3 linked regions of the Homo sapiens genome follow. Each later gene encodes a partner of the first gene's protein in a complex. Each region holds a gene or a part of one and is shown in the gene's direction. Other genes may lie near its edges.

Region 1 (7,129 bases):
ATAGTCAAGTTGTTCAAAACATACATTAAACCAGCCTGGGCCACATGGTGAAACCCCATCTCTACAAAAAATTTTAAAAAGTAGCTGGGTGTGGTGGCACATGCCTGCAGTCCCAGCTACTTAGGAGGCAAAGTAGGAGGATTGCTTGAGCCCAGGAGGTCGAGGCTGCAGTGAGCCCTGATTGTGCCACTGCACTCCAGCCTGGGTGAGAGAGCAAGACCCTGTCTCAAAAACAAAAAAACCACACAGAAGAGTTTAGAATCCCAGTTGCTATCTCTGGGAATCATCATGATTGCTAAGACCGGTATCTATCCAACAACAACAAAAATAATTAGTGCACTCCAGCCTGGGCAATAGAGGGAGACTCTGTCTCAAAAAAAAAAAAAAAAAAAAAAAAAAGATCAAAGACCAGTATCTAAATTGCTCTGTCGCCCAGGGTGGAGTGCAGTGGCACGATCTCGGCTCACTGCAACCTCCGCCTCCCGGGTTCAAGTGATTCTCCTGCCTCAGCCTCCCCAGTAGCTTGGACTACAGGCGCGTGCCACCACACCCAGCTAATTTTTGTATTTTTAGTAGAGGTAGGGTTTCACTATGTTTGCCAGGATTGTCTCGATCTCTTGACCTCGTGATCTGCCCGCCTCAGCCTCCCAAAGTGCTGGGATTATAGGCGTGAGCCACCACGCCCAGCCTATCTTTTTTTTTTTTTTTAAGAAAAGGTAATACATTGAGCAGTTTTCCTCCCAACCTAGTCCCTGTCCAATCTGTTTCCTGTCTTAAATTTATTTTTTATTATAATTTTTTTTTTTTTTTTTTTTTGTGAGACAGACTTTTGCTCTTGTTAGCCAGGCTGGAGTGCAGTGGTGCTATCTTGACTCACGGCAACCTCCACCTCCCAGGTTCAAGCGATTCTCCTGCCTCAGCCTCTGGAGTAGCTTGGATTACAAGCGCCTGCCACCACGCCCAACTAATTTAGTGTATTTTTAGTAGAGACGGGGTTTCTTTTGTTGTTGTTGTTGTTTTTGAGACGGAGTCTCACTCTATTGCCCAGGCTGGAGTGCAACGGCACGATCTCGGCTCACTGCAACATCTGCCTCCCGGGTTCAAGCGATTCTACTGCCTCAGCCTCCTGAGTAGCTGGGATTACAGGCACACACCACCACACCTGGCTAATTTTTGTATTTTTAGTAGAGATGGGGTTTCACCATATTGGCCAGGCTGATCTCGAACTCCTGACCTCGTGATCTGCCCGCCTTGACCTCCCAAAGTGATAGGATTACAGCCATGAGCCGCCCTGCCCAACTAATACCTGATATTAATTTTATTGTATCTCACCCAGCATGGTGGCTCACACCTGTAACTCCTTGGCAGATCGCTTGAGCCTAAGAGTTCAAGACCAGCTTGGGCAACATGGTGAAACCCCGTCTCTACTAAAAATATAAAAATGAGCTGGGCATGGTGGCGTGCACCCGTAATCCCAGCTAACTCAGGAGGCTGAGGCAGGAAGAATGGCTTGAACCCGGGAGGCAGAGGCTGCAGTGAGCTGAGATCATGCCACTGCATTCCAGCCTGAAACAGAGCAAGACTGTCTCAAAAGAAGTTTAAGTCCAGCCTCAAACTCCTGGACTCAAGTGATCCTCCTGCCTCAGCCTCCTGAGTAGTGCACCGGCCCCATCTCAAGTGTTCAGTATTCACATGTGGCTTGTTACTCCCGTATTAAAGAGCAAAAATAGAGAACGTTTCTTTTTCTTTTTTTTCTTTTTTTTTTTTTTTTTGAGATGGGAGTTTCGCTCTTGTCGCCCAGGCTGGAGTGCAATGGCACGATCTTGGCTCACCGCAACCTCTGCCTCCCAGGTTCAAGCGATTCTCCTGCCTCAGCCTCCCAAGTAGCTGGGATTACAGACATGCACCACCATGCCTAGCAAATTTTGTTTTTGTTTTTGTTTTTTTCTTTTGAGACAGACTTTTGCTTTTATTGCCAAGGCTGGAGTGCAATGGTGCAATCTCGACTCACTGCAACCTCCGCCTCCCGGGTTCAAGCAATTCTCCTGCCTCAGCTAATTTTGTAGTTTTAGTAGAAACGGTTTCTCCATGTTAGCTAGGCTGGTCTCAAACTCCCAACCTCAGGTGATCCGCCCGCCTCGACCTCCTAAAGTGCTGGAATTACAGGCGTGAGCCACTGTGCCTGGCCCTAATTTTGTATTTTTAGTAGAGATGGGGTTTCTCCCTGTTGGTCAGGCTGGTCTCAAACTCCCAACCTAAGGTGATCCACCAGCCTCAGCCTCCCAAACTGCTGGGATTATAGGCATGAGCCACCGCGCCCGGGGAAATATAGGGAACATTTCTATCATGGCCACGTTCTCTTGGACAGCAATGCCCTAGCACATAGTAAGCGCTTGCTGGGAATGGAGTTGTTTTGGGCATAAATCTGTGGCCCGCCCCAAGCTAAGCTACTTTCCCTCTCCTCTCTCAGCGGAGCCTTAAACAACGCAGTGAGACAGACATCTATCATCCCATTTTACAGGGGAGGATACTGAGGCACACAGAGGGGAGTCACCAGCCAGAGGATGCATAGCCTGGACACAGAGGAAGTTGGCTAGAGGCCGGTCCCTTCCTTGGGCCCCTCTCATTCCCTCCCCAGAATGGAGGCAACGCCAGAATCCAGCACCGGCCCCATTTACCCAACTCTGTACAAAGCCCTTGTCCCCATGAAATTGTATATAAATCATCCTTTTCTACCAGCTCTGGCCAGGTCTGTCTATGGATGGGTGTGAATGGGGTAGTTTTGATTTCAGAATCTTGGTTTTTGAATTGCAATGCAATGTTTCATTCAATACGTGTTTTCTGAGGTCCCCTGGAGCCCCGGGCCGGCGCTGGGCAATGTCAGAGCCTGGATTTGAGTCAGAACCAGCCCAGGTGCCCCAGGTCTCCTTGGCTATGGACGAGAAGACAAGGGATTCAGCGAGCCTGGGTGCAGGATGCCATAGGCTACTATGGAGATAAAACAGAGGCAGTGTGAGGGGCAACTCACCCAGGCAGGGAGAGCAGAGAGGCTTTCCAGAGCCAAATGGCATTGCGATGGTGACAAGCCAGATTTGGAGGGGGTGGGGAGGGCATCCTGGGCAAGGGACCCAGCTGAAGCAAAGGCCGACAGTCCAGAAAGTGAGAAGTTCCTCTGAGGAACGCTCAGTGGATTGGTGCAGCCAGGCAACTAGAAGCCATTCCTTGATCCACTCTTAGAGCCCCTGGGGAAGACCACCTCCATCTGTTTTACAGATGGATAAACTGAGGCCCAGATAAGGCCAAGGGTTTCTCCAGGTCACAGTGAAGTCGACCAGACACAGGAATCCAAATCTCTAAGCCTAGAATGGGCAAGGCTCCGGGGCTCACGCCGGTAATCCCAGCACTTTGGGAGGCCGAAACGGGAGGATCGCTTGAGCCCAGGAGTTCGAGATCAGCCTGGCCAACATGTCAGACTCCCCCCGTTCCCGGGCCACAACAAAATATATATATATATATATATTAGCCAGGCATGGTGGCGCGCCCCTGTAGTCCAAGTTACTCGAGAGGCTGAGGCAGGAGGATCCCTTGAGCCCAGGAAGTGGAGGCTGCGGTGAGCCATGATCGCCCCACAGCACTCTGGTGTGGACAACACAGCGAGACCCTGTCTCACAAAATAAAGTAAGCCCGGACTGAGTGCGGAAAGGCGGGCCTGGCGGGTCTGGTCTCCCCATGCGGGCCACCAGAGGCCCTGCAGCCTTCAGTCGCTTGAAGGGGTAATGGCGCTTCCACTCACAAACATGGCGGACAGAGCGTGTGAACGAGATGAACAGCCCCTCAAAAATATGGCCGCCGAGGCTGGACGGCCGTGCCCCAGCAGCACCGCCTCCGCGCCCCACGTGATCTCTCGCCGGGCACAGCGCTGACCGCGGAGGTCCAACCGGAAGAATGTCCGGATTGGACATTCGGAAGAGGGCCCGCCTTCCCTGGGGAATCTCTGCGCACGCGCAGAACGCTTCGACCAATGAAAACACAGGAAGCCGTCCGCGCAACCGCGTTGCGTCACTTCTGCCGCCCCTGTTTCAAGGGATAAGAAACCCTGCGACAAAACCTCCTCCTTTTCCAAGCGGCTGCCGAAGATGGCGGAGGTGCAGGTATGGGCTCCGCGCGGGCCGGGGCGGCAAGGGGCCGGGTGGGATCCAGGCCGGAATGGGGTCGCACCCTCTCTGTCTTGCATGTTTTGCGGAGCTTAACATCCATAATGAAGCAAAATGGAAGTCTTTTGGGATAAGGGGAATCTGTAGGAAATGCCGCGGCTCTCTTTAGGCCTAGGGTTGGCTACAATGTGGCATTTCCTTCTCGAGGCGAGGGTGATAGAGCTTCCAGCACAGGACAGGTATTTTGCAACTAGATTTTGCTTACCTTGAACTCGGGTAGTGGGTGGGGGCCCTGGGGTAGAGTCTTGGCCGAATTGGACCCTTGTGTGTCCTCAGCGATGAGGAACACGCGGAAGTGTGGCCGGGCGGTCTCGGGGCAATGAGAAACTGAGTTTTGGCCAAAATGGAAGGTATTTTTATCCCGCTCAGTGCGCGGGCTACTTTGATTTCACGTGGAGGTGTTAATCGGGGTCCCCTGCAGCTCCGGTTCTTTTAATTCTCAATGCCTTTCTGCGGGGGGTCGAGAGCTGTTGGCTGCGGGGCACTCTGGAATGAACTCGTTTTCCGTCGTTTTGGGGATTGGCGATTGTCCTGAGGCGTGTTACTGGAAGTCGAGAGCTGTGATGAATGGTTCCACAAGGATGGGACATCTTTTGGGCCTGACACCTGGGGGCCCTTTCCCTGGCTCCTGGTGTAGCTACTTAAGTATAAAGGAGGGATTGGCCCTGGAAAGGTTTCTTTGTGAGTAGTCTGTTGTTGGGGCGGGTGACATTTCAGAGCCAGGCCGATCTAGGCAAGTTGTGTTCACCAAGCATGTGTCTTTGTGCCTAGCACAGTTCGCAATGTTTTGCGTAGTTCAGTTAACCATATTCCTGAGGCAGTTACTGGTATCCTTGTTTTACAGAGGAGGAAATTAAATTGGAATTGGTGATTTTGGGCCAAGGTCACGACTTCAGGAAGTCTGTCTGGATTTTAGAGTCTTTGTACCAACGCTTACAAAGCATGTGTAACAACCAGTGTGTGCTTCATGCTTTTGCATTAAAACAATGAGGATTTCTACTTTTAGTGTTTTTTCTGAGACGGAGTCTCGCTGTGACACCCAGGCTGGAGTGCAATGGTGCGATCTTGGCTCATTGCAACCTCTGCTTCCCAAGTTCAAGTGATTCTCCTGCCTCAGCTTCCCGAGTACCTGGGACTGCAGGTGCCTGCCACGACGCTTGGCTAATTTTTGTGTTTTTAGTAGAGACAGGGTTTCACCATATTGGCCAGGATGGTCTCGAACTCCTGACCTCAACTGATCTGCCCACCTAGGCCTCTCAAAGTGCTGGGATTACAGGCGTGAGCCCCTGTGCCCGGCCAGGATTTCTACTCCGGAGGAAGCTGAGGTTCGGTGCCTGAGCAGTTTACCGGGGAAAGCAGAGTGCTCTATAGCAGAGCTAGCATGGGCTTTTGACTACTCTGCCTAATCTCATCCCACCTGAAATTCGGTTTTCTTCCAAATTAAATTTGTGGTAGAAACATCCTATACATTAGAAGAGAATTAGATTGTGTTAACATCCTACAATTGATTGGCCACAGTGGCTCAAGCCTGTAATCCGAGCATTTTGGAAGGCCGAGGCACACGGTTCACTTGAAGCGAGGAGTACAAGAGCAGCCTAGGCAACATGGCAAAACCCTGACTCAACAAAAAAAAAAGTACAAAAATTAGCTGCGTGTGGTGGTGCGCGCCTGTAGTCCCAGCTACTCATGAGGCTGAGGTGGGAGGATAGCTTGATCCTGGGAGGTCACAGGATCACAGGACAGCCTGTGCAACAGCGAGACCCTGTCTCAAAACCAAATCCTACAGTTTATTAGTTACAAGGTCTTGTAACTGGGTAGTCAGTGGGCAGAGCCTTGCTGGTCTTCGTTCAAATCCAATTGCTTTGCAAAATACAATCTGAGCATAAAATACTCATAGAAGAACTCAGATATGAGGGGAGTTTGGGCCTCTTAAACTGCTCACTCACTGATCCTGAGGCAGCCTTGCTTTCTCAGTCCCTGTTCCTCATCTGTAGAACGGGGCTCCGTGCATAGTTCCCAGCTCTGATGGCTGGGTGCAAGGCACGCTGTTGGCACGGTAGGACAAAAGAAGGGAATGCTTGCTTGTGAGGACAATCAAAGGCTGTCCTTGTCTCTGAGTCCTTTTGCCCTTGTCTCCCACAGGTCCTGGTGCTTGATGGTCGAGGCCATCTCCTGGGCCGCCTGGCGGCCATCGTGGCTAAACAGGTACTGCTGGGTAAGTCGCTGCTCGTGGCCCCTCTGTCATGGGCCCCCGCTGGAGGTCAGTGATGAGCAACATTCACCATCTTTCGTTTGAGTCTCACGGCCATGAGATCAACCCCATGCACCGCTCTGAGACCTGCCAGCCACTCTTCCCCAGGGTTGGGGACTCCAGGCTCAAGAAGTAATTATGTATTAGGCTAGTTTTTCATTTAAACAGGAACTTAGCTCTGGCAAGTACTGCGCTGTGTCTGGAGGGTGACTGCATAGGCAGTGGTGGGACCCTCAGGCGGCTCGGCCCTGCTAAGCCTTTCCCTCCCTCTAGGCCGGAAGGTGGTGGTCGTACGCTGTGAAGGCATCAACATTTCTGGCAATTTCTACAGAAACAAGTGTAAGTTAGGACCTGGGAGGAGCACTGGAGAGGGTCTCCCTGTGGGGTGTTGAGGCTCTGAAAGCAATTGCAGCCGTGTTGGGAGAGGCTACTTGGGGTTTCTGAGAAGGCCCTTGGAAGTGGGGTTTTGGGGGTGCTGGTAGACTGGGCAGGCCTCACACTCTCCCCTCTCCCTAGTGAAGTACCTGGCTTTCCTCCGCAAGCGGATGAACACCAACCCTTCCCGAGGCCCCTACCACTTCCGGGCCCCCAGCCGCATCTTCTGGCGGACCGTGCGAGGTGAGCAGAGCGTGGGGACTGCAGGTGGTGACGGGCAGGCGGCCGG
Region 2 (7,074 bases), on another chromosome or scaffold:
CAGCAGCAAGTCCCCACTTCTTTCCAAGTTGTGACAATCAAGAATGTCAAATGACTTCTGGGGGGCAAAATCACTCCTGTTGAGAACTGTTGGTCTGTGTTAACATGGAGGAGTATTTTGTTGACCCTTTTAGGATTTATGTATTGTAGTATTGGGTGGTTGAACTTAATTTACAGGTATCCAGAGGAGCTTGTATGGTAGAAGTTTCAGGGAAGGAAGGCAATTTCTTCAGAGCCATAGGAGTATAAAAATTGCATGTGGCCCAGCATGGTGGGTCACACCTGTAATCCCAGCACTTTGGGAGGCCGAGGCGAGTGGATCACAAGATCAGGAGTTTGAGACCAGCCTGGCCAACATGGTGAAACCCCGTCTCTACTAAAAATACAAAAAATAGCCGGGCATGGTGGCAGGCGCCTGTAATCACAGCTACTCGGGAGGTAGAGGGAGGAGAATTGCTTGAACCCAGGAGGCGGAGGTTGCAGTGAGCCGAGATAGTGCCACTGCTGCACTCCTGCCTGGGGGACAGAGCAAGACTCTGTCTCAGAAAAGACAAAAAAAAAAAAACCCTGTATGTTTAAGAGTTGATATAAAAAGGTATTTGAGAGAGAGAGGAGAAAGTAGCAGGAGTCATCTTTTTACTTTTTTTAATGTTGTGTCTCTGGCATAAATGTAGAGAAATAGAAGTAAACCTGGGATCAGGAGGGCCACACACTTGAATAGCCTGTACAGAATAGTGGGGTAGAAAGCAATAAATTTTTCTGAACTGGAGGTATGGTATTTGAACTTTATTAAATTTTGATTTTCTGGAGATGGGGAAGGGACAGGGAGGACTCAACTTTCTGACTTACATGTTTTCTTCTGTTATACCCGGTGTACCTAGCAAGGATGGGCATAATAGAAGAATGGTTTCTTTTGCTGTAAGGTATTTCTATAAAGTTGTATGGAAATTGATGTTGGTTCTTTAGTTTGTGTAGCTCCACGTGTAGAATAGATTTTGAGGTTAGGTGTGGGAGGATTAATCAATAATTATTGCCGCTGCTGCCGCCATTATTAGTAACAAATTTTGAGGTGTGGTTTTAACTAACCCATATAATCCACTTTTCTAGATTACTTGGATACTTTTGCACTTGGGTTTGTAAATAATACTAATTGGTGGATTTGTCACTTTGACATGTTGCTTTTTGCCTCTGCTTTCTGATAATCTGGGATATGGTTACTCGAAAATTCAATTTACTTTTTACTGTAGTTTTAAAGTTGTTTCTGTATATTTTTGCCATGACAAATCTACTTCTCTTTCTCCTTCATAATTTGTTATATGCATAATGAAAATGAAATGGGGAAAAAGTACAGTTGGATTTAGAAATAAAAGCTGTTTTTTTAGGCTTAAATATTTGAAGCCTGAAATTTCTTATTACAACTTTTGATAAGAGGAAGGGAAGATGGAAAAATAGATTTAGGTGCTGGTTAACAGAACGGCAGAGATCTTGCTGATCTTGGGATCAGTTTTCCTTGTATGAGAATAACTGGTTGATGGGATGAACTTAAGTAAAAGTTAAGTTTTTGAGGAACTGGCAGTTTTTGAATTTAAGCTGCTGCAGATCTGATTTCTAATTAATCAAGTAAAGGATTTAATAACCTTTTATTTGCATTAAATTGGTTCATGAACTTGTCCAATGGGTCTTGTTAATATAATCTGTTCCTCATAATTCCCTTGTATGGGAATTAAGGTAAACTACTTTTTAAAGGATGATTTGCTCTTGTGTATCTTTTATAATTAACTGTTCTAGTTGTATAAGTAATTTAAAAACATGATGCACTTTTTCCCCTTTCAGTATAATAATCATGAAATTCGTTCTGGAAAACATATTGGTGTCTGCATCTCAGTTGCCAACAATAGGCTTTTTGTGGGCTCTATTCCTAAGAGTAAAACCAAGGAACAGATTCTTGAAGAATTTAGCAAAGTAACAGGTAAGTTGGATTTATTTGGAATGAGGTGCAGCTTTTAATAATGAAGATTAATAGCATATTTCTGTGCGTCATGCATTGTTCTAAATACATTTATTGACTCATCGAATCCTCACTACAACTTTTGAAGTGTAGGTAACCCCATTTTTCAGATAAGAAGAACAGGCATTCAGGGATTTGGGAAATAACTTGCCAAACGTTGTACAAGTTAGTAGGGAATACAGCTAGGGTTTGAATTCATTCTGCAAAATCATTGTTCTTCCTATGTTTTGGAAGATCGTATTTCTTTGTGTGTTCTTTCTCTAGGTGTTAGTTGATGTTCTTAGTAGAATTGTTTGAATAATGATTTGATGTTCTTGAAATTACAGGAGTAGTAAGTATTGCCGTAGCAGAGTGTTTTTTTTTTTTTTTTTTTTTGGAGACAGTCTTGCTTTGTTGCCCAGGCTGGAGTGTGCTGGTGTGATCTTGGCTCCCTGCAGCCTCTGCCTCCCAGATTCAAGGGATTCTCTTGCCTCAGCCTCCTGAGTAGCTGGGATTACAGGCGCGCACCACCACACCTGGCTAATTTTTGCGTCTTTTGTAGAGGTGGGGTTTCACCATATTGGCCAGGCTGGTCTTGTACTCCTGACCTCAAGTGATCTGCTTGCCTCGGCCTCCCAGAGTGTTGCGATTACAGGTATGAGCCACCGTGCCTGGCCCATAAACAGAGTTTATATATTGTCAACATGGTAAAAAAATTTTTTGAACTGTAACAACTTTTAAGTGACAGGTTGCTTTTAGAAAATATTTTGGTCTGCCAACAGTGTCTAACAAATTATCAGCCTGTTATCAACTTTCAGGACATTGGAAATTTTTATGCAGTACTTATAACTTCTATTTTATTTGAAATAAAGCCATTGATATCTAAGGCCAGAAAAGTGCCATTAAAAATAATTTTAGTGTTTGCATAATAAGAAAAATAGCCATATTTGATCTATACTGCCATTTTCTTAGAACAATTATATGAAAATTTTTATCTGCCTCTCTGATCTAATTAGTGAAAACAAAAGTAGTCCTTACCTCTAAAAAGAGCACATGTTCTTTTCTGGAGATTTCTGTGTTGAAAAACTTGGAAACAGATTAGGAAAATAATCCGGACCTAGTTTTTGATAGTCTTTTATAAAGATGTCTAGTGAAGGAAAGAGATGATTTTTCATTTTGATATTTAAGTAGTATCTTAGATAAATCCTTTGATCCACTTGTATTTGCTAGTTATTTCATCTAATTTTCCTGGAATGGTTGCTTACTTGCAGAGGGTCTTACAGACGTCATTTTATACCACCAACCGGATGACAAGAAAAAAAACAGAGGCTTTTGCTTTCTTGAATATGAAGATCACAAAACAGCTGCCCAGGCAAGGCGTAGGTTAATGAGTGGTAAAGTCAAGGTCTGGGGGAATGTTGGAACTGTTGAATGGGCTGATCCTATAGAAGATCCTGATCCTGAGGTTATGGCAAAGGTAATGATAGTCAAGTTAAAAATATTTTTTGAGGGATTAATGGGAGAAGGGCCGGGGTTGGGGTGGGGGGAACATAAAATGAACAGTATACATTTTTTTATTTTTTGAGACAAGAGTCTCTTGTTTCCCATGTTTCCCAGGCTGGAGTGCCATGGTGCCATCTTGGTTCACTGCAACCTCCGCCTCCCGGGTTCAAGTGATTCTCCTGCCTCCCAAGTAGCTGGAATTACAGGCTCCCACCACCACACCTGGCTAATTTTTGTGTTTTTTTTAGTAGAGCTGGGGTTTCACCATGTTGGTCAGACTGGTCTCGAACTCCTGACCTCGGGATCCACCTACCTCGGCCTTCCAAAGTGCTGGGATTTAGAGGCGTGAGGCTATTGCACCTGGCCCTGGACACATTTTTTTTTAAACCATATTTTTAGAGTTGGGAGAAATGTTCTTTACTACGGGACTAGGCAGTGCGCACTGGAAATACCATGTGCCTGCAAAGTGAAAATAGAAATTGATGCGTGGATACTTAGCCATAATTGTATAGCCATCACAATCTTGTAATGAAGTCGCCTACATGCTGTAGACAGTTGACTTCCATTTTGTGTGTTTTTTAAGAGCAATTTGAGTTTTTGAGAATGGCACCATTAGTTTACATGGTTTTGGGGTTAAAAGTCTTACTACTAAAAACAGTAAATTATACTGGCCGCAGCAGAGGTGCTTGCAGTTACATTTAGCCATTATTAGGTATCCTGACTTCAGCAGTCAGTGGAGACATTGTATAAGAATAAACATCCCTTGAGTCAACACTTTATTACACACTGGTGCAGTAATTTGCAGTTATTTGTTCTATCCTTTGTTCTCTTTTTTTTTTTTTTTTTTTAAGTGACAGGGTCTAGATCTGTGGCCCAGGGCTAGAGTTCAGGGGCATGATCATAGCTGACTGTAGCCCCAAGCTCAAGAGATCTTCTCACCTCAGCCTCCCAAGTAGCTAGAACTACAGGTGTGTACTACCACACCTGGCTAATTTTTTTAAAAAATTTTGTAGAGGCAGAGTTAATCTCCCTGTGCTGCCCAGGCCGGTCTTACAATTCTTAGCCTTAAGCAATCCTGCTTCCCAAAATGCTGGGATTACAGGCATGAGCCACCATGCCCCAGTTATCCTTTGTCTTTTAAGAATTCCCTCTTTGTTACTTACAGGTTAGGTGTCAGACACCACTAGTTGAGTTAAATTGAGGGTAATATGAACTGCCAGGGAGCTATGAATATTATTGAAGGATAAGTGGTCTTAGAGAAGAGAAAATAGTTAGGATTCATTTTTCCTCTGGCCTATAAATTCTCATTGGGTTAGCACTTTAGATTAACACATTCAGATGGTATTCAAGTTATTTTAGGAGGAAGTGATAATGTTAGTGAAGAGGTTAAATTTTGTAATTTTACTTTGAGAAGCTTTCAGGATTGAGAACAGTTTGTCTTACTAATATTTTGAACAGTCCTTCCCCCTTTAAGATTTCAAAAGCAGGTCCTAATTAGTTTTGGCCACTCTTGTTAAGTGTTAAACATTCAATAACTCTCTTAGAGGGCATGGTATTTACTTTGTTAGGAAAAATTATCTTTTTTATTGCAAAATAATTACTAATTGGTAATTATTACTGATGTAGCCTGTAGTCTGCATTTTCTTTTTCATAGACTTCATTAGAGCAGTTTTAGGTTTACAGCAGAAAGCACAGAATTGCCATATGACTTCTGCCCCCTACACAGGCACAGCCTTCCTCACTACCAGTATCCTGCACTGGAATAGTACATTTGTTAAAATTGATGGACGTAGATTGATTACCTAAAGTCCATAGTTTACATGAGGTCTCACTCTAGATGTATGTTCTGTGGGTTTGGAGAAATGTATAACCGTGTTTCCATCATAGTATTATACAGAATAGTTTCACTGCCCTAAAAATCCTCTGTCCTGTGCTTAGTCATCCCTCCCCATTCAACCACTGGCAGTCACTGTCTCCATAGTTTTGCCTTCTCAGAATGTTACATAGTTGGAACCATACATTATGTAACCTTCACATTGGCTTCTTTCTCTTAGTAATACATATTTAAAGTTCTTCTATGTCATTTTGTGGCTTTTAACTAGTTTCTATCAGTTATAATATTCCTTCTGTATGTGCCACAATTGTCCATTCTCCCATTGAAGAACATCTTGGTTTCTTCCAATTTTTGGAAATTTTTTTGTTTTTCTTTTGAGACAGAGTCTCGCTGTGTTACCCAGGATGGAGTGCAGTGGCACGATCTCGGCTTACTGCAACCTCTGCCTCTTGGGTTCAACCATTTCTCATGCTTCAGCCTCCCGAGTAGCTGGAACCATAGTTGCGTACCATCGCACCCGGCTAATCTTTGTATTTTTGTAGAGACGGGGTGTTACTGTGTTGGCCAGGCTGGTCTCGAGCTCCTGACCTCAGGTGATCTGCCCGCCTCAGCCTCCCAAATTGCTGGGATTACGGGTGTGAGCCACTGCGTCTGGCAAATTTTTGGCAGTTACAAATAAAGCTGCTATTAACATCTCTCTCTAAGTTTTTGTGTGCATGTAAGTTTTCAACTCTGGGTAAATAAGGAGCAGGATTGCTGGGTCATATGGAAGTGTGTGTTTAGTTTTGTAAGAAATCGCCAAACTGTCTTTCAAAGGGGCTATACCCTTTTGCATTCCCACCAGCAATGAATGAGAGTTTCTATTGCTCTGCATTCTTACCTGCATTTATAGTGTGTTGGATTTTGGCCATTCTAATAGTTTTGACTTGCGGTTTCCGAATGACAGATTATATTGAGCATCTTCATGAGATTCTTTGCCATCTGTATATCTTTTTTGGCAAAGCATCTATTTCAGGTCTTTCAACATGATCCAGCAGTTCTGCTGCTTGATATTTACCCAAGGAGTTGAAAACTTTTTTTTTTTTTATATTCTGACATTCTTCTAATGGATTGTGATTTGAGTTAACTTTGTAGGGTGGGGTGGTGGTATCTTAGAAATGGAACTCTTTGGAAATAATACAGGGGGGTATTTTCTTCCCCCTAGGTAAAAGTGCTGTTTGTACGCAACCTTGCCAATACTGTAACAGAAGAGATTTTAGAAAAGGCATTTAGTCAGTTTGGGAAACTGGAACGAGTGAAGAAGTTAAAAGATTATGCGTTCATTCATTTTGATGAGCGAGATGGTGCTGTCAAGGTAAATATGGTGGAATTACAGGCATCTAAATCAGACTAACAAATTTAGTCATTTTAGAATCTCAAAATAGTTTTACAAATTGGAGGAGACTTTGGAAGTCCATGGAATCCATTCAAACTAAAACCTTTTGGTTTTAGTGATGTTGGCAGTTTTCTAAGTAAAAATGAAAAATAATTGAATATCTGCATCTTTAAATAAAATTATTTGACTGCCTGCATGGGGCTTTCTCTTGTCCTTCCCACATTAATGATAAATGATATTCCAACTTTAAATGAATCATAATTGTATGAAAGTCCTATTTTTATATTGACTTATCTAATTTTTTAAGGCTATGGAAGAAATGAATGGCAAAGACTTGGAGGGAGAAAATATTGAAATTGTTTTTGCCAAGCCACCA
Region 3 (8,025 bases), on another chromosome or scaffold:
TGCAGACAGCTCCTCTCCTACATCACCAAGGACAAGCAGACAGAGAGCCTGGTGGAAAAGCTGTGTCAGCGGTTCCGCACATCCCGGTATGCTGCCCTCCCTGAGGGTTCTTTGTGCTGAGCGGGGCCCTGCAGGGGAGAAAGGCCCATCCCTCACCCCTTCAATGCCCCCACTGTGGCATCCCTGGGACTGGGGAGGCTGATGGGGAAGGTTGAGCCTTTACTAGCTGGATCTCCCAGTTCCTCACAAAGCCCTTCCTATCTGCAGAACTGAGCGGCAGCAGCGAGACCTGGCCTACTGTGTGTCACAGCTGCCCCTCACAGAGCGAGGCCTCCGTAAGATGCTTGACAATTTTGACTGTTTTGGAGACAAACTGTCAGATGAGTCCATCTTCAGTGCTTTTTTGTCAGTTGTAGGCAAGCTGCGACGTGGGGCCAAGCCTGAGGGCAAGGTGAGCAGCACAGGACACTTCAATGCCTGTTGGGTTCTGGGCTGGCTAAGACATCTGCCGGCCCTGGGCAGCATACGGCTCTTGCAGTCACCTTCCCGTCCTCCTTATCCCCAGCTGGGTTGCAACCAAATTGCCAGAGTGACCTAAGACCAGATCTTTGTCTCCAGTTCTTTTTTTATTACTCCAAAAACACAACCAAAGCAGCATCTCATCCAATTCTTGTTTGTTTGTTTTTAATAGTTTTTATTTTTCAGAGCAGTTTTAGGTTCAAAGCAAAATTGAGCAGAAAGTACAGGGAGTTCCCTTCTACCCCTTGCCCCTACACATCACAGCCTTCCCCACCTTCAACATCCTGCACCAGGGTGGCACATTTGTTACAGCTGAACCTACACTTACACATCATCTCCTAAAGTCATGGTTTACCTTGGAGTTCACTGCACGTAATGACATGTACCCACCATTGCAGTATCATACAGAAGAGTTTCACTGCCTTACAAATCCCCTGCACTCCACCTATTTATCCCTCTCTCCCCACAACCCCTGATCTTTTTACTGTTGCCATCACTTTGTCTTTTCCAGAATGTATCATTGGAATGATCCGGTATGGAGCCTTCTCACCTTGGCTTCTTAGTAATGTGCGTTTAAGGCCTCCATGTCTTCCATGGCCTTGTTTCTTTTTAATCAGAAGTAACTGTTTTCAGGCCTGCTCTGAATCTCCTTTTCTCCCTCCAGGCTATAATAGATGAATTTGAGCAGAAGCTTCGGGCCTGTCATACCAGAGGTTTGGATGGAATCAAGGAGCTTGAGATTGGCCAAGCAGGTAGCCAGAGAGCGCCATCAGCCAAGAAACCATCCACTGGTACGTAAGGCAGCCTGTGCGGGCGAGACCAGACTGGGCCCTCCCCTCCTGCAGTGATTTGTTTCTTCTTCTTTTTTAAATCACGTTTTCCTGCCTTTTCTAGGTTCTAGGTACCAGCCTCTGGCTTCTACAGCCTCAGACAATGACTTTGTCACACCAGAGCCCCGCCGTACTACCCGTCGGCATCCAAACACCCAGCAGCGAGCTTCCAAAAAGAAACCCAAAGTTGTCTTCTCAAGTGATGAGTCCAGTGAGGAAGGTATGATGCTCCCGCCTGTTCCCGGCCGAGAAGGCACACAGCTAGGGTGCAGAGGGCTGGTTTCCATAGGACCTGCTGCGGGGGCCTGAGTGTAGATGCTCTGCCCCACTGCCGCAGAAGGGCCTCTCCTGTACAGCTTGGATTTTATTTCTTCTGTGCGGTGTGGGATTGTCTCACTTGTTCTCTGATATCTATTTTTTCACCATCTTTGTGACTCAGCTTTTTCTTATTCCTTTAATTCTTTGCATAGATCTTTCAGCAGAGATGACAGAAGACGAGACACCCAAGAAAACAACTCCCATTCTCAGAGCATCGGCTCGCAGGCACAGATCCTAGGAAGTCTGTTCCTGTCCTCCCTGTGCAGGGTATCCTGTAGGGTGACCTGGAATTCGAATTCTGTTTCCCTTGTAAAATATTTGTCTGTCTCTTTTTTTTAAAAAAAAAAAAGGCCGGGCACTGTGGCTCACGCCTGTAATCCCAGCACTTTGCGATACCAAGGCGGGTGGATAACCTGAGGTAGGGAGTTCGAGACCAGCCTGACCAACATGGAGAAACCCCATCTCTACTAAAAATAAAAAATTAGCCGGGCGTATTGGCGTGCGCCTGTAATCCCAGCTACTCAAGAGGCTGAGGCAGGAGAATCGCCTGAACCCAGAGGCGGAGGTTGTAGTGAGCCGAAATCACACCATTGCACTCCAGCTTGGGCAACAATAGCGAACCTCCATCTCAAATTAAAAAAAAAATGCCTACACGCTCTTTAAAATGCAAGGCTTTCTCTTAAATTAGCCTAACTGAACTGCGTTGAGCTGCTTCAACTTTGGAATATATGTTTGCCAATCTCCTTGTTTTCTAATGAATAAATGTTTTTATATACTTTTAGACATTTTTTCCTAAGCTTGTCTTTGTTTCATCTTTCACATTAGCCCAGTTTCATGCAGCAGAGAGAGGGTTATCAGTGCAGAGAGAGATGAGTGAGCCCAGAGTCCTAGGGCCTGTCCCGGGATGGCAGATGAGCTTCCTGCCCCGTCACTGCCACCTTTCCCCTCTCAACCTCTGGACCCTGCACAGTGACCAGACAGCCTCTCTGGGGAGAATTATGCAGTGCCTAGGCTCCAGATCAGTGCTTCTGAACCGGGGGCAATTTTGTCTGCCAGAGGACATCTGACAACACCTGGGGCCTGTTTTGTTGTCATAGCCTATAGGGGAAGAATGCTACCAGCATTTGTGGGAAGAGGCCAGGGATGTGGCTCAACATCCTGCAGTGCACAGGATGGCCCCTCAACAAAGAATCACACGGCCCACAATGTCAATAGCGTCACAGTTGAGAAAACCTGCTCTAGACCAAGGGTTGCTTTCTGCCGTGTGCCTCACCCCACCCCCACTCGTGTTCCCTAATCCCATCTCCAAAGGTTGGCAGCAGACCGGCCCAGGCTCGTGGAAGTTCAGATCATGATCCCCTCCAGCTCTGCAGGAGACAAGACCTGTCTCCCAGCATTCCTCATTGTTCCCGGGTCTGCAGAGGGCGTGAGCTATGCTGCAGGCGGGCTGCCCCCTGAAGCCTGCGCACCCCTCTCCAGCTCCTCAAGTCTTCTCTGCTGAGTCACCTTCGAACCGGAGGCTGTGAGCTGGCTGTCGTGACCACACTGGTGCCTCTGCTGTCATGACAACAGCACACTACGTCAGTAGTGCTCCCTGGGCACTGAGCTCCCTCTTTGCGGGGAGAAGACAGTAATGAAAAATGACAAGCATGAGGCAGAGGGGAAGATCACGCTTGGGTGGTGCAGGAGCATGGAGGTGCTCTTAATGCTCTCAATGAGAAAGGGTTAACGGTCCTGGTTGCAGGAATAGCTGAGTCAGAGGTGGGGCTTCCTCCACTCCCCCACCCCACCCCTTTCACCATTAGGGACCTTCTTGCCTTGCTCTTGCTACTCTGCTCTGGGTGGTCATTGTGAAAAGCCCGCACCAACCATGCCAGTGGCAGCCAGACGAGGACACAGCCTGGCTCTGGGTCCCAGCAGGAAAGGCAATCCCAGAAAGGCAGGGTCAGGGACTGGAGTCCTGTGGGTGCTTTTTAAGCAAAGATTATCACCAGGCAGGCTAAACTTAGCAACCGGCTTTTAGCTAGAAGGGCAGGGGGCTGGTGTCAGGTTATGCTGGGCCAGCAAAGAGGCCCGGGATCCCCCTCCCATGCACCTGCTGATGGGCCAAGGCCACCCCACCCCACCCCCTTCCTTACAAGTGTTCAGCACCCTCCCATCCCACACTCACAAACCTGGCCCTCTGCCCTCCTACCAGAAGAATGGATCCCCTGTGGGAGGGGGCAGGGGACCTGTTCCCACCGTGTGCCCAAGACCTCTTTTCCCACTTTTTCCCTCTTCTTGACTCACCCTGCCCTCAATATCCCCCGGCGCAGCCAGTGAAAGGGAGTCCCTGGCTCCTGGCTCGCCTGCACGTCCCAGGGCGGGGAGGGACTTCCGCCCTCACGTCCCGCTCTTCGCCCCAGGCTGGATGGAATGAAAGGCACACTGTCTCTCTCCCTAGGCAGCACAGCCCACAGGTTTCCAGGAGTGCCTTTGTGGGAGGCCTCTGGGCCCCCACCAGCCATCCTGTCCTCCGCCTGGGGCCCCAGCCCGGAGAGAGCCGCTGGTGCACACAGGGCCGGGATTGTCTGCCCTAATTATCAGGTCCAGGCTACAGGGCTGCAGGACATCGTGACCTTCCGTGCAGAAACCTCCCCCTCCCCCTCAAGCCGCCTCCCGAGCCTCCTTCCTCTCCAGGCCCCCAGTGCCCAGTGCCCAGTGCCCAGCCCAGGCCTCGGTCCCAGAGATGCCAGGAGCCAGGAGATGGGGAGGGGGAAGTGGGGGCTGGGAAGGAACCACGGGCCCCCGCCCGAGGCCCATGGGCCCCTCCTAGGCCTTTGCCTGAGCAGTCCGGTGTCACTACCGCAGAGCCTCGAGGAGAAGTTCCCCAACTTTCCCGCCTCTCAGCCTTTGAAAGAAAGAAAGGGGAGGGGGCAGGCCGCGTGCAGCCGCGAGCGGTGCTGGGCTCCGGCTCCAATTCCCCATCTCAGTCGTTCCCAAAGTCCTCCTGTTTCATCCAAGCGTGTAAGGGTCCCCGTCCTTGACTCCCTAGTGTCCTGCTGCCCACAGTCCAGTCCTGGGAACCAGCACCGATCACCTCCCATCGGGCCAATCTCAGTCCCTTCCCCCCTACGTCGGGGCCCACACGCTCGGTGCGTGCCCAGTTGAACCAGGCGGCTGCGGAAAAAAAAAAGCGGGGAGAAAGTAGGGCCCGGCTACTAGCGGTTTTACGGGCGCACGTAGCTCAGGCCTCAAGACCTTGGGCTGGGACTGGCTGAGCCTGGCGGGAGGCGGGGTCCGAGTCACCGCCTGCCGCCGCGCCCCCGGTTTCTATAAATTGAGCCCGCAGCCTCCCGCTTCGCTCTCTGCTCCTCCTGTTCGACAGTCAGCCGCATCTTCTTTTGCGTCGCCAGGTGAAGACGGGCGGAGAGAAACCCGGGAGGCTAGGGACGGCCTGAAGGCGGCAGGGGCGGGCGCAGGCCGGATGTGTTCGCGCCGCTGCGGGGTGGGCCCGGGCGGCCTCCGCATTGCAGGGGCGGGCGGAGGACGTGATGCGGCGCGGGCTGGGCATGGAGGCCTGGTGGGGGAGGGGAGGGGAGGCGTGTGTGTCGGCCGGGGCCACTAGGCGCTCACTGTTCTCTCCCTCCGCGCAGCCGAGCCACATCGCTCAGACACCATGGGGAAGGTGAAGGTCGGAGTCAACGGGTGAGTTCGCGGGTGGCTGGGGGGCCCTGGGCTGCGACCGCCCCCGAACCGCGTCTACGAGCCTTGCGGGCTCCGGGTCTTTGCAGTCGTATGGGGGCAGGGTAGCTGTTCCCCGCAAGGAGAGCTCAAGGTCAGCGCTCGGACCTGGCGGAGCCCCGCACCCAGGCTGTGGCGCCCTGTGCAGCTCCGCCCTTGCGGCGCCATCTGCCCGGAGCCTCCTTCCCCTAGTCCCCAGAAACAGGAGGTCCCTACTCCCGCCCGAGATCCCGACCCGGACCCCTAGGTGGGGGACGCTTTCTTTCCTTTCGCGCTCTGCGGGGTCACGTGTCGCAGAGGAGCCCCTCCCCCACGGCCTCCGGCACCGCAGGCCCCGGGATGCTAGTGCGCAGCGGGTGCATCCCTGTCCGGATGCTGCGCCTGCGGTAGAGCGGCCGCCATGTTGCAACCGGGAAGGAAATGAATGGGCAGCCGTTAGGAAAGCCTGCCGGTGACTAACCCTGCGCTCCTGCCTCGATGGGTGGAGTCGCGTGTGGCGGGGAAGTCAGGTGGAGCGAGGCTAGCTGGCCCGATTTCTCCTCCGGGTGATGCTTTTCCTAGATTATTCTCTGGTAAATCAAAGAAGTGGGTTTATGGAGGTCCTCTTGTGTCCCCTCCCCGCAGAGGTGTGGTGGCTGTGGCATGGTGCCAAGCCGGGAGAAGCTGAGTCATGGGTAGTTGGAAAAGGACATTTCCACCGCAAAATGGCCCCTCTGGTGGTGGCCCCTTCCTGCAGCGCCGGCTCACCTCACGGCCCCGCCCTTCCCCTGCCAGCCTAGCGTTGACCCGACCCCAAAGGCCAGGCTGTAAATGTCACCGGGAGGATTGGGTGTCTGGGCGCCTCGGGGAACCTGCCCTTCTCCCCATTCCGTCTTCCGGAAACCAGATCTCCCACCGCACCCTGGTCTGAGGTTAAATATAGCTGCTGACCTTTCTGTAGCTGGGGGCCTGGGCTGGGGCTCTCTCCCATCCCTTCTCCCCACACACATGCACTTACCTGTGCTCCCACTCCTGATTTCTGGAAAAGAGCTAGGAAGGACAGGCAACTTGGCAAATCAAAGCCCTGGGACTAGGGGGTTAAAATACAGCTTCCCCTCTTCCCACCCGCCCCAGTCTCTGTCCCTTTTGTAGGAGGGACTTAGAGAAGGGGTGGGCTTGCCCTGTCCAGTTAATTTCTGACCTTTACTCCTGCCCTTTGAGTTTGATGATGCTGAGTGTACAAGCGTTTTCTCCCTAAAGGGTGCAGCTGAGCTAGGCAGCAGCAAGCATTCCTGGGGTGGCATAGTGGGGTGGTGAATACCATGTACAAAGCTTGTGCCCAGACTGTGGGTGGCAGTGCCCCACATGGCCGCTTCTCCTGGAAGGGCTTCGTATGACTGGGGGTGTTGGGCAGCCCTGGAGCCTTCAGTTGCAGCCATGCCTTAAGCCAGGCCAGCCTGGCAGGGAAGCTCAAGGGAGATAAAATTCAACCTCTTGGGCCCTCCTGGGGGTAAGGAGATGCTGCATTCGCCCTCTTAATGGGGAGGTGGCCTAGGGCTGCTCACATATTCTGGAGGAGCCTCCCCTCCTCATGCCTTCTTGCCTCTTGTCTCTTAGATTTGGTCGTATTGGGCGCCTGGTCACCAGGGCTGCTTTTAACTCTGGTAAAGTGGATATTGTTGCCATCAATGACCCCTTCATTGACCTCAACTACATGGTGAGTGCTACATGGTGAGCCCCAAAGCTGGTGTGGGAGGAGCCACCTGGCTGATGGGCAGCCCCTTCATACCCTCACGTATTCCCCCAGGTTTACATGTTCCAATATGATTCCACCCATGGCAAATTCCATGGCACCGTCAAGGCTGAGAACGGGAAGCTTGTCATCAATGGAAATCCCATCACCATCTTCCAGGAGTGAGTGGAAGACAGAATGGAAGAAATGTGCTTTGGGGAGGCAACTAGGATGGTGTGGCTCCCTTGGGTATATGGTAACCTTGTGTCCCTCAATATGGTCCTGTCCCCATCTCCCCCCCACCCCCATAGGCGAGATCCCTCCAAAATCAAGTGGGGCGATGCTGGCGCTGAGTACGTCGTGGAGTCCACTGGCGTCTTCACCACCATGGAGAAGGCTGGGGTGAGTGCAGGAGGGCCCGCGGGAGGGGAAGCTGACTCAGCCCTGCAAAGGCAGGACCCGGGTTCATAACTGTCTGCTTCTCTGCTGTAGGCTCATTTGCAGGGGGGAGCCAAAAGGGTCATCATCTCTGCCCCCTCTGCTGATGCCCCCATGTTCGTCATGGGTGTGAACCATGAGAAGTATGACAACAGCCTCAAGATCATCAGGTGAGGAAGGCAGGGCCCGTGGAGAAGCGGCCAGCCTGGCACCCTATGGACACGCTCCCCTGACTTGCGCCCCGCTCCCTCTTTCTTTGCAGCAATGCCTCCTGCACCACCAACTGCTTAGCACCCCTGGCCAAGGTCATCCATGACAACTTTGGTATCGTGGAAGGACTCATGGTATGAGAGCTGGGGAATGGGACTGAGGCTCCCACCTTTCTCATCCAAGACTGGCTCCTCCCTGCCGGGGCTGCGTGCAACCCTGGGGTTGGGGGTTCTGGGGACTGGCTTTCCCATAATTTCCTTTCAAGGTGGGGAGGGA

Evidence for each region.
Region 2: RPL13A (region 1) and SYNCRIP share a complex: the UniProt entries of both Homo sapiens proteins name them as parts of the GAIT complex.
Region 3: RPL13A (region 1) and GAPDH share a complex: the UniProt entries of both Homo sapiens proteins name them as parts of the GAIT complex.

The regions. Positions count from the first base shown.
Region 1 is NC_000019.10:49,483,494-49,490,622, forward strand, and holds the start of RPL13A (large ribosomal subunit protein uL13), read left to right. Parts: upstream 1-4,114; 5' UTR 4,115-4,136; coding exon 4,137-4,151; intron 4,152-6,356; coding exon 6,357-6,429; intron 6,430-6,472; exon of another isoform or gene 6,473-6,554; intron 6,555-6,738; coding exon 6,739-6,804; intron 6,805-6,981; coding exon 6,982-7,083; intron 7,084-7,123; exon of another isoform or gene 7,124-7,129. Other genes in the region: FLT3LG (fms-related tyrosine kinase 3 ligand), read left to right, coding at 2,522-2,709. UniProt on the Homo sapiens protein: Associated with ribosomes but is not required for canonical ribosome function and has extra-ribosomal functions.
Region 2 is NC_000006.12:85,618,871-85,625,944, reverse strand, and holds part of SYNCRIP (heterogeneous nuclear ribonucleoprotein Q), read left to right. Parts: intron 1-1,832; coding exon 1,833-1,968; intron 1,969-3,257; coding exon 3,258-3,463; intron 3,464-6,527; coding exon 6,528-6,677; intron 6,678-7,005; coding exon 7,006-7,074. UniProt on the Homo sapiens protein: Heterogenous nuclear ribonucleoprotein (hnRNP) implicated in mRNA processing mechanisms. Component of the CRD-mediated complex that promotes MYC mRNA stability.
Region 3 is NC_000012.12:6,529,508-6,537,532, forward strand, and holds the start of GAPDH (glyceraldehyde-3-phosphate dehydrogenase), read left to right. Parts: upstream 1-5,009; 5' UTR 5,010-5,062; exon of another isoform or gene 5,063-5,302; 5' UTR 5,303-5,325; coding exon 5,326-5,354; intron 5,355-5,756; exon of another isoform or gene 5,757-5,962; intron 5,963-6,986; coding exon 6,987-7,086; intron 7,087-7,176; coding exon 7,177-7,283; intron 7,284-7,412; coding exon 7,413-7,503; intron 7,504-7,593; coding exon 7,594-7,709; intron 7,710-7,801; coding exon 7,802-7,883; intron 7,884-8,025. Other genes in the region: NCAPD2 (condensin complex subunit 1), read left to right, coding at 6-86, 268-451, 1,184-1,310, 1,414-1,569, 1,820-1,905. UniProt on the Homo sapiens protein: Has both glyceraldehyde-3-phosphate dehydrogenase and nitrosylase activities, thereby playing a role in glycolysis and nuclear functions, respectively.